Linked DNA regions of Homo sapiens. The protein of the gene in region 2 purifies or fractionates together with the protein of the main gene of each other region. This does not show direct contact. Each region holds a gene or a part of one and is shown on either strand. Other genes may lie near its edges.

Evidence for each region.
Region 1: the proteins of PLS3 (region 2) and PRRC2C fractionate together in Homo sapiens (co-fractionation; one large-scale study listed by BioGRID). This does not show direct contact.
Region 3: the proteins of PLS3 (region 2) and GART fractionate together in Homo sapiens (co-fractionation; one large-scale study listed by BioGRID). This does not show direct contact.

Annotation. Positions count from the first base shown.
Region 1 is NC_000001.11:171,589,936-171,593,590, reverse strand, and holds the end of PRRC2C (protein PRRC2C), read right to left. Parts: intron 2,440-3,655; coding exon of another isoform or gene 2,387-2,439; intron 2,005-2,386; coding exon 1,744-2,004; 3' UTR 80-1,743; downstream 1-79. UniProt on the Homo sapiens protein: Required for efficient formation of stress granules.
Region 2 is NC_000023.11:115,641,083-115,644,737, forward strand, and holds part of PLS3 (plastin-3), read left to right. Parts: intron 1-2,230; coding exon 2,231-2,426; intron 2,427-3,655. UniProt on the Homo sapiens protein: Actin-bundling protein.
Region 3 is NC_000021.9:33,504,015-33,507,669, forward strand, and holds part of GART (trifunctional purine biosynthetic protein adenosine-3), read right to left. Parts: intron 2,091-3,655; coding exon 1,960-2,090; intron 1,689-1,959; coding exon 1,547-1,688; intron 514-1,546; coding exon 398-513; intron 302-397; coding exon 110-301; 3' UTR 1-109. UniProt on the Homo sapiens protein: Trifunctional enzyme that catalyzes three distinct reactions as part of the 'de novo' inosine monophosphate biosynthetic pathway.

The DNA.
Region 1 (3,655 bases), on a different chromosome or scaffold from region 2:
AGTACTCTTGACCACTATTTTTAATACATGACAAACCCTCTTGCTTCAGATTTTAGGAAATGATTATAAGCTCCAAGAATCATTATTTAGAGAATACTTTATTAGTTTCTGTAATCAAACCCATGTAGATAAGACCTTACATATTTAATACAGTGCGTTACCCCTGTACAAATGGAAAAAAATTAAGTTTAACGTTTCTAGACCAATATGGCTGTTAATTTCTGTACAATGCCAACTCAACACAGTAAACCGGGATACTTTTTCCAAAGTTGACAGCACAGCTAAAGTTTCCAAAAATTCAAATTATATATATATATGTATATATATATATATATTTATATAAAAAGACCAATAGCAGTATGTTATGCATCAATAGCAGCAACAGCTTTTCCAGGTTCTGCAGTCATCTGAATAAAATTATAGAGACATCCAGCACACTCCATTTAAAAAAAAGGGGGGAAAAAGGTAAAAAACAAAACCCCAGAAAATTGCAAAGTTCTGTTACTGTTGTGGTACCTGGCACCGTTTTTTAAAATTAGCTTCTGAATCATCATCTGGAAAGAAAACATTCTAGAATAACATCATTAAAAACAGCTCTGATAAAGCACGGTCACTACTACGTATCATAAAGCAGGTACAAGATATTTTACATTCACAGAGGTATGATACAGTACTGTCCTATATCTATAATACTAGAGGATACAATTAAAAAGGCATTATTTGAGACTTGATTCTACTTTTCCAGCAGAGGGCCCAAAGGATGGCATGACACAGCTCTGTAAAGAAATGCACCTTCTTAGGATTTCCTTTAATTAGTGGCACAGTTCTAGGTACTCACTGTTCTTCATAAACACCAGCTAAAAACTGGTATAAAAAAAAAAAGAAAAAAACCCCCAAATCATGGGATTCATACAAAGATGACTGAGTGGGGGCAAGGAAGACTCAACCTAACCAGCATTTTACCAAATCTGTCATGTTTGAATCGTGAGAGCTCCATGGAAGAAAGGAGATGCTAAGTAGCGCTTCAAAGCTTCAGACCACAACCAAAACACAGCACCATTTCAAATAGAAGCAGTAGCCAAACACTGCTCACTTTGATATGGTTCAAGGATGCTGACATCAATATTTATCTGCTCATTCATCCAGGAAGAAGGGGACATCAGTTACTACTGTACTTTGATTGTGTTCAACTCAATCACCATGTTATAAAAATAGCAAGCTGCCATAATAAAAAATAAGGCTCCTCTATCCAGCACCAGTTATCTTCAGTTCTTTACCTCCAAGCCTACAAATGCCATAACCATATCCGAAGAACATAAGGGAGCAAAAAAACCGCATCTGATGTAGTAGCTGGGACCATCACACTGTTCAGGCTGAGCTATTCCTCTGCTGTGTTATTTTCCTTATATTTTTGGTGTTTCATCTAATCATAAGGATTTTTAGGTCTAAATTATATGCACTCAAAAAAATGGGTGCATACATTTATATATAAATTCTGACTGAAGATGCATGGCCATCAACCAAGCACATGTTATATAGTAGGTACAAGCTTGCAAAGCCTCGTTTTCACTGGTACAGCAGCTGTGTGTCAGTGTAAATTGCTCCTATGTCCCTTGTACATCTCCAAGCTCTGAACAGGATAATGTCACAGGCCATTTTGCCCCTTTGGCTGCCAGCATTATCTGACTTAATTCTCCATGTTTTCCCGCCCCCCTCCCAATCCCCTGCAATAAACCATAGCCTTTAAGATTTTGTTTCTTCGGTTTTGATCGCCTGAGGTTTGATTGGTCCAGTTCTAACAGGTTTGGTGGCTATGGAGGGTGCAGGGGGTGGCTTTTCTTCTACTTTTTCCTGACAGACCCCAGGAGGGTCGGTCAGTGTTTCAGGAGGTTTACTTGAATCACTGTCCACTTTCTGGGCTTTGCCTCCTCCTATCTGTTTGCTCTGTTGCTGTTCAGAGAAGAACCGTTGCGTGGACTGAAGAACCTCTGCTCTCTGCTTTGCCTTAAAAAATGAGAAAGAACAACTGAAAATACTGCAGCATTACCAAAGCCTGTCAAATCAATCTTGGTTCAAATTCTTTTACCAATCACAAATCAGTTTTCCCCACACTGGTTTGGCCAAAGCCAAAAGTACCTCATTGATCTTTGAGCTTTTAATGAATAGATTTCTTCCTATTTTTGAAATATTTCATGTGATTTAAAAAAAAAAAAAAAACCACAGGACCACCTCCCACCACCTTTTCAAGGTCTGCCCTCTCATATTAAATTTTATTTAGGGAACCTGCTTGCAAATCTAAAAACATACATGTAACACTTAAAACTTCTAGTTATCAATATGTGGTCTACAATAAAATGAAAAGGAAGCACTTATATTGTGGCATTACCAACACCTAGGACCAAATGTCTTGTGGCTGAGTCCTCTTCCCACAGCTCTCTTCTGCAGGGGAAGAGCATCAGAAATTAGTAACTACGACTTCACTTGATCACTAAGTTCTGATAGCTCCTACCACATTCTGAGCTGGTAAATAATTTCTTAGTTTTGACTATGTGCCCCCAAAAATATACTTACGTCAAATCTGTAAATTTTACCACTGTAACATTCACAATTAAAACTTAAGTTTCCATCCTTCTTGCATATTAAAAAAATGCTTTATGTTCTATAGGTAACCTGTACTATCCAAAGATCTGAAGCAATTTTCAAGAAGTTTGTACCCTCTCCCACCCCATTACTACTATTAAGCTCTAATGTTATTTCCAACATGGGAATATGCGAAAATCAAGAGCCAAGGAGCCAGGAGTAGAACTGGAATCCAAGGCCAAATAACTTCCTAAGATTTTTACTCACACTGGTATTTCTAATTATAACAAACAGATGGAAATCCTAGGCATACAGCCTTAATAAAAGTAGATAATTATTTAATAAAAGTTTTGCTGCTGGGTAGTCTTTAAATTTGATTACTCAGGATCAGAAACACTAGGGATGTCGACCCAAAAAGACACTTTAATCAATCAATCAAATTTTCTAATAGGATTATCATAAACATGTTTCTAATTCAGAGTAAAGCATTACTATGCACATTTCCCTGTTTGAAAGCAGTAAGCTTTTCTTTGTTCTAGTCTGATCTGATGACATATGTAGTGACAAAACAGGCAAAAATTACTAAGATCCCTGAAAGTCAAGCCTAAAGTAAATATAGAAATAAACGGATTCAACTGGCTGTACTGGCAGACATGTAAGGTTTATGCTACAAAACTGTCCCCACACAGACTCCTAAAGGCACTCTTTCTGCATTAGCAAACCTCATGTTTATCAGTGCCTTTCATCATGAAGGATCCCAAAGTGCTTTTCTGAGTTCTTCATCTATAACTGCACAATCCACTGTGGAATACAACCACCTCATGTGGTAGGCCAATAAGGGTATGAAAACAGTTTGAGAAGAAAACTGTACTTTGATGACTCATAATGGAAAAAAGTACTAAGATAGTAACACATCTTACCCATTCCAGAGTTTTCATATAACCATGATTTACATTTTAAGCTGCTGGGAGGAGGAGAGTCAGGGGAAAGGGGGGAAGAAAATATATATTAAAAAAAAAAAAAAAAAGAAAGAAAATGGGGAAGTCTATAATAATTGATATTACTTCTTTGCTAT
Region 2 (3,655 bases):
AGTCCCAAGTTTCTAGGAATCTGTGGTTTTTGTACCCATTAGATATGGAATGCATGCTACTAATTAACAAAATCCACATATCTAGCCTATTATGCCATAGGATGGAGTGGATTACATTGGCTAAACCATTTTTCTTCTCTTTCTTTTTTTTTTTTTTTTTTTTGAGACAGAGTCTCACTCTGTTGCTGAGGCTGGAGTGCAGTGGCACCGTGTCGGCTCACTGCAACCTCCATCTCCTGGGTTCAAGCAATTCTCCTGCCTCAGCCTCCCGAGTAGCTGCGATTACAGGCGCCCACCACCATGCCCAGCTAGTTTTATATTTTTAGTAGAGATGGGGTTTCACCATGTTGGCCAGGCTGGTCTTGAACTCCTGACCTCAGGTGATCCACTCGCCTCGGCCTCCCAAAGTGCTGGGATTACAGGTGTGAGCCACCGTGCCTTACGTGGCTAAACCATTTTTATGCTGCCCTTATCAGAACTGAATTTGTAACTGACTTGTGTGCTTATATTTCTGTCTGTATGTTAAATGCAAAACTCTTCAGCTCAGGTCACTCTTGGTAGGGATGAGGGGCCATCTTGTCCAAGAAGGGAGCTGTCTGGGTTGGCTAGCCATGTGATCTGATACCAGGGTAAATGGCATCAGTATGCTAACCGATTCTGATACACCCCTTCTCTAGTCAATCCTTTCCAATTGATCTTAAAACACTCTTTTGTCTCTTCCCTCTTCAGAATCCGACAAGGATTCTTCTGTTGACTCTAGAATTCAGTCTGAAATGTTCTGCTTGGCACTCACCCTACAAATCTTGCTCTAAAATCTAGCCAGTGTTATTTCCCCAAAAGTCTGTGTTCCCCACCCCAACCTTCCTTCCCACCACCACCCAGGTGCCTTTGCTCATGCTGTTCTCATGGTTTTCAGTGTCCTTCATCTTTTTCAGCTTTACACCTTCTTTAGGGTCTTTTTTTTTTTTTTTTTTTTTTAAGAGACGAGGTTTCGCCATGTTGGCCAGGCTGGTTTCGAACTCCTGGGCTCAAGCAATCCTTCTGCCTCGGCCTCCCAAAGTGCTGGGATTACAGGCGTGAGCCACCACGTCCAACCAAGGCCTAATTTTAACTCTGAACAGTTTTACCTGTTTTTTATTTCAATTTAACTTTTTTCTCTTCGTCTTTGTAATGGAAAAAATCCCTTCCTTTCGTCCTAACTTTTTTAATCCTTCAATTCCCTGAGATTAATCCTTGGTCTTGCCTTCCACCATTCTCCCTACGCTCAAAAGAAATCAGTGGAAATAGATTCTCTGCTTCTCTTCAATTCAAGCAACAGTTCACAAGCATTTCCCTTGGGATTTGAGCATGACATGAATGAAGGTGTCTGTCTTCTCCCTCAGCCAGGGAAGCCTACTTCCACAGCTCAGCACAACTTCCTCTCTCTCTAGCTCGCTCTCCAGCAGTGCCCTCCTTTCTAGTTCCTTCTGCTGCATAACACAGCCCCAGAGGTTCCAGGGTTCCAAGGAGTCCACTCTGTCATGAAGCTCATTGACTTAATGCACAGTACCCAGAAGCCTCAGTGAAGTTCAGCTGAGAGCCAGTAGAAAAAAGGAGAAACTCCAAAGCAGAAAGTAGTAAATCAGCAAAATAAAATAAAATAAGCCAGGTTGAAGAGAATGAACCCACAATTTACAGAAAATGAACACCATTTTCTAAAGGAGACTTAAGTAGGACTACAGTTAATACCCTTTCACATTTAATAATTAATTGAGATTCATTGTAGATAAAGTACATTTGAAAAAAAATTTTAACATAATTCTACTGAAAATATCTGAATATTTAACTTGAGGTGGCTTAAAAGGACAATTGAAGCTGTTTTCCTATTGAGAAGGAAAAAAGGAAAAGTGGAACCAGAGAAAGTGAAGATGGTGAATGTATATTTTTCTCTACAGATTTTCAAACAAAATCTGGGAGTTTCCCCCAACCTTTTACGTAACTTCTTTCTTAATGCAATTTAGTTAAATGTACTCAGTAGTTTGCTGTGTGATCTGGCGCCATCTAGTGTATATTACAGGTACTGCATCTCCAAGAGGGCCAACCTTTTTTTTTGCATTCAAAACAATTTTATAATAAGTACCATATGTTAGCTAAAAGAAAGTAGAACTGTATACCCAGACTATGACAGTGGGGAAATTTTCTATATTTTTAGTGTGGCCTTTGACAAAGTCTTCCGATTTTGTTTCAACAGGAAACAGATGATTTGAAGAGAGCTGAGAGTATGCTTCAACAAGCAGATAAATTAGGTTGCAGACAGTTTGTTACCCCTGCTGATGTTGTCAGTGGAAACCCCAAACTCAACTTAGCTTTCGTGGCTAACCTGTTTAATAAATACCCAGCACTAACTAAGCCAGAGAACCAGGATATTGACTGGACTCTATTAGAAGGTAACTAAAAACCTCAATTTCGAATGTGTGGGACTATAGAGTAGAAATACATAGGCCACAATGATTTTACAATCTAGACTTAATAAGTTTTTTTATATCTACAAGAAGTAGATGGCAGATGCTGAGTAAAAACTGGCAGGAAAGTACGATACAAGTGAACTTTTAAAGTAAAGTAGTCGAGGCCGGGCACGGTGGCTCACAGCTGTAATCCCAGCACTTTGGGAGGCCGACATGGGCGGATCACCTGAGGTCAGTAGTTTGAGACCAGCCTGACCAACATGGTGAAACCCCGTCTCTACGAAAAATTAAAAAATTAGCTGGGGCGTGGTGGCACATGCCTGTAATCCCAGCTACTCGGGAGGCTGAGGCAGGAGAATCACTTGAATCTGGGAGACGGAGGTTACAGTGAGCCGAGATCGCGCTATTGCACTCCAGCCTGGGCAACAGAGTAAGACTCCATCTCAAAAAATAAATAAAAAAAATAAAAAGTAGTCGAGTCGCTTAATGTAAAGCCACTTAGTAAATCAGTATTTAGTTTTAATATTTAGGGTTAGACCACTTTTTAATCCTCTCACCAGGAAAAAGTGCACATATGCATTCAGTTTGACCTGTAAATTTAGCATATATTTATGTTTCATTCATCCACAGTCAATGTAACTGGAACTAACCCCAACTCCTTTCACCTTTACCTCCTCAAGAAACAAATGATAATATATACTAATTTTTTTTTAAGTTTTGGAAAGGCAGAGTTTACCTTTTCCAGATTATATATGTGTGAAGCGTAGTCTATAAAAATTAAGAAATGCAGCCAGGCGCGGTGGCTCACGACTGTAATCCCAGCACTTTGGGAGGCCAAGGTGGCCAGATCACCTAAGGTCAGGAGTTCGAGACCAGCCTGGCTAACATGGTGAAACCCCGTTTCCACTAAAAATACAAAAAATTAGGCAGGCATTGTGGTGCGCACCTGTAATCCAGATACTCGGGAGGCTGAAGCAGGAGAATCCCTTGAACCTGGGAGGCAGAGGTTGTAGTGAGCTGAGATCGTGCCATTGCACTCCAGCTTAGGCAACAAGAGCAAACCTCCATCTCAAAAATAAATAAATAAATAAATAAATAAATAAATAATGCAAATAGTAATTCATTGAGTGTCCACTGATATTTCTATAAAACCAGTAACTTAACTGATAACATCAGTTACTTTGAGGGATGCAGATTCGAGGAAATATTGG
Region 3 (3,655 bases), on a different chromosome or scaffold from region 2:
TTTTTGTCTTTTAGCAGTTTTTCTTTTGGGCCAAGTCCATGATAAAAAACCACCATGCAAACAGCAAATAATTCTTTCTAAACTGGCCCCATTTCTGAATTAAAAGGCTTCATTCCTCTTTAACCCAACAGATCTTGCCATTTTCTCCAAGCTGTACAGTTCCACTGGCCACCAGCTGAAGGGCTGCAGGAAATATTTTATGTTCTGCTAATTTTACTCTTTCAGAAAGAGTTGCGACAGTATCACCCCTCTTCACGGGAACAGCTTCTTGCAAAATAATCTGTCCAGCATCCACATCTTCCTGGAAAAGTAAGCAAAAGTTTTGAACATTACCTTCTAGCCAGTGTCATTTACATCTGACTACTAATATTATGTTGGTAGAAAAAGACATACTCACAGCTACAAAGTGTACAGTGCACCCAGTAACTGTGACTCCGGTTTCCAGGGCTTGCTCATGGGCATTTGAACCCTTAAAAGAAGGGAGCAAGGATGGGTGGATATTGAGCATTTTTCCTAAAAATTAAAAAAAGCATAGTGGTCAGAATTTAAAAATCCTGGGTATTCTGTTAAAGGAATACGTTTTCCTATCTAGATCCGAAGTCAAACAGGAGTTGGATTTCTGGGATGGATGTTTTCTTTGCCAAACACAGAAATGAGGTAAAAGTAAGTTCTCATCCAAGAAGGCCCTGGAAGCAGCAAGTACCCGCCTTGCACAGTTAAAGGCATGCTGGGGTGCTCTGAACAGACATTCATGGTGACAGGAAGGTGGGGAGTTCAAGCTGAATACCAGCTTGTTGCTGGCACGTACTATTAAAAATAAGCAAGAGGTTCTTACATAGCATCTATGTGCTTGACTTCTAACCACAAAGTGACCTGTCCACCAGACAGATGCTAGATTAGTTCTGTGTGGCTCATGTCACCAAAGGCATTGTCTATTTTATATCACACCACAAGTGCTCTAACTACATTCACCTAAGAATACATAAACTCTTTGGAGGGAAAATGCATTTATTGACCAACTGTGTGCACACATACACAAACAGGATGCAGTCAAGGCTTTTGGGAAGAAGGCAGTAACATAGATAGTATGTGTTTTCTGGCAATAACCTCCTCCTTGCCAACTCCTGGCAATGGTCTATGCTTCCTAAGAGAGGATGGACTCTTCATTTTGGGATATACGGAATCACTCTCTTTTGCTTCCAAACAAATAAAGGAAGGTCTTCTGAATATTTATTCAAAAGATGAAATATTATCTTTGCAGTAATGTGAAACAAAACTAAGCTACATTAGAAAAAGTGATTAATTACAGCAAGCCAAAGTAAATGGATAGAGAGCAGGTTAATAAATCATCATTGGGTCATTCTTTAGTGTAAAACAAAGGAAATTAAACTGTGACCTGTGTTAAAGTATTAATAAAATATCACAGTCAAACAGGAGTTGGATTTCTGGGATGGGTGTTCACTACTGGGATTGTTTGGCAAGTTATCTGTTCTGGAGACCATTTTCAATTGATTTCCCAATGTGATGTCAAATAATTTTTGCTTACCATTCCACTTTTGGACAAAGGGGCCAGAAAGAATTCTCATGAATCCTGCAAGACAGACTATGTCTATGGAGAACTCTTCAAGGACTAGGTCAATTGCACTGTCAAATTCTACACGATTTTTATACAGTTTATGATTAATTACCTGTAATAGAAAAAGATAAGCACAACCCTTTTCAATGAATTACCAAAAATAATTAAAAACTCAACCTTTACACAGACCATACTTCACTTCCTTGTAAAGATATACCTGATAGAGAGATTATTAAGAAAGGGACAGGATGAAGAAGGCAAGCCCAGCACCCACCCAAAATGGCGAAGTCCCAAGAACAAGTGCCCATAGACCAGGGTCCTGTGAGGGCAGATTACGAGCTTAAATATGGCCCACAGCAAAGATATTTTCCCAAGTAACTTACTCTAGTGGGAATACCAGCTCTTTCCGCTTTATCTAACCCAGCTACTGCGGCTTTGTTGGAGATAACAATATCAATTTGTGCAGAGCTATTTGGTTCCCGAGTACTGTCTATAAGTGCTTGCAGGTTCGATCCTGAGAAGGGAGAAAAACAGCAGTGAGCTCATACTACTACTTCTTTTTTTTTTTTTGAGAGGGAGTCTCACTCTGTCGCCCAGGCTAGGAGTGCAGTGCCACGATCTGGGTTCACTGCAACCTCCACCTCCCGGGTTCAAGCAATTATCCTGCCTCAGCCTCCTGAGTAGCTGGGATTACAGGAGCCCACCACCACACCTGGCTAATTTTTGTATTTTTAGTAGAGATGGGGTTTCACCACGTTGGCCAGGCTCGTCTGGAACTCCTGACATCAGGTGATCCGCCCACCTCGGCCTCCCAAATTTGGGATTACAGGCATGAGCCACCGCGCCCAACCTCACACTTTTTAAAAAAAGAGATGTGCCATTTTGAATAGGGGACAGTCAAATTTTCTGAATAAATGTCTTGGAAAAGACTGGTGATATGTGAGGCTTCTAAATTCCCTTTCTCTTGGCACAGGCAACTAAAGTAAATATGGAAAAAGCTTCTGTATAGCAATGGAAACAATCAACAAAGTAAGGAGACAACCCACAGAATGGTAGAAAATATGTGCAAACTACCCATCTGACAAGGGATTAATAACCAGAATATATAAGGAGCTTAAACAATTCATTAGGGAAAAATCTAATACTCTGATTAAAAATGGGCAAAAGATCTGAATAGACATTTCTTAAAAGAAAACACACAAATTGCAAACAGGTATATAAAAAGGTGCTCAACATCATTATCATCAGAGAAATGCAAATCAAAACTATGACATATTGTCTCGCCCCGGTTAAAATGGCTTTTATCCAAAACACAGGCAATAACACGCTGGCGAAGATGTGGAGAAAAGGGAACCGTCACACACTATTGGGAAGGTAAATTAGTACAATTATTATGGAGAACAGTTTGAAGGGTCCTCAAAAATTAAAAAAAAGAGCTACCATATCATCCAGCAATCCCATTGCTAGGTATATACCCAAAAGAAAGAAAATCAGTGTATCAAAGAGATACCTGCAGTTTCATGTTTATTCTCCCTAGCCAAGATTTGGAAGCAACCTAAATGTTTATCAGCAGACAAATGGATAAAGAAAATGTGGTACATCACACAATGGAGTACTATTCAGCCATAAAAAAGATGAGATCCTGTCATTTGCAACAACATGGATGGAACGGGAGGTCATTAAGTTAAGTGAAATAAGTCAGGCACAGAAAGACAAACCTCACATGTTCTCACTTATTTGTGGGAGCTAAAAATTAAAACAGTTGAACTCATGATGATAGTGCAATGATGGTTACCAGAGGCTAGGAAGGGTAGTGGGAGAGACGGGGAGAGGGGATGCTAATGGGTACAAAAATATAGTTAGAATGAACAAAATCTAGTGTTTGATAGCATAACAGGGTGACTATAGTCAACAATAATTTATTACACATTTTAAAATAACTGGAAGAGGCTGGATGTGGTGGCTCACACCTATAATCCCAGCACTTTGGGAGGCCAAGGCAGGCGGATCATACTGAGGTCAAGAGTTCAAGACCAGCCTGACCAGCCTGGCCAACATGATGAAACCCCATCTCTACTA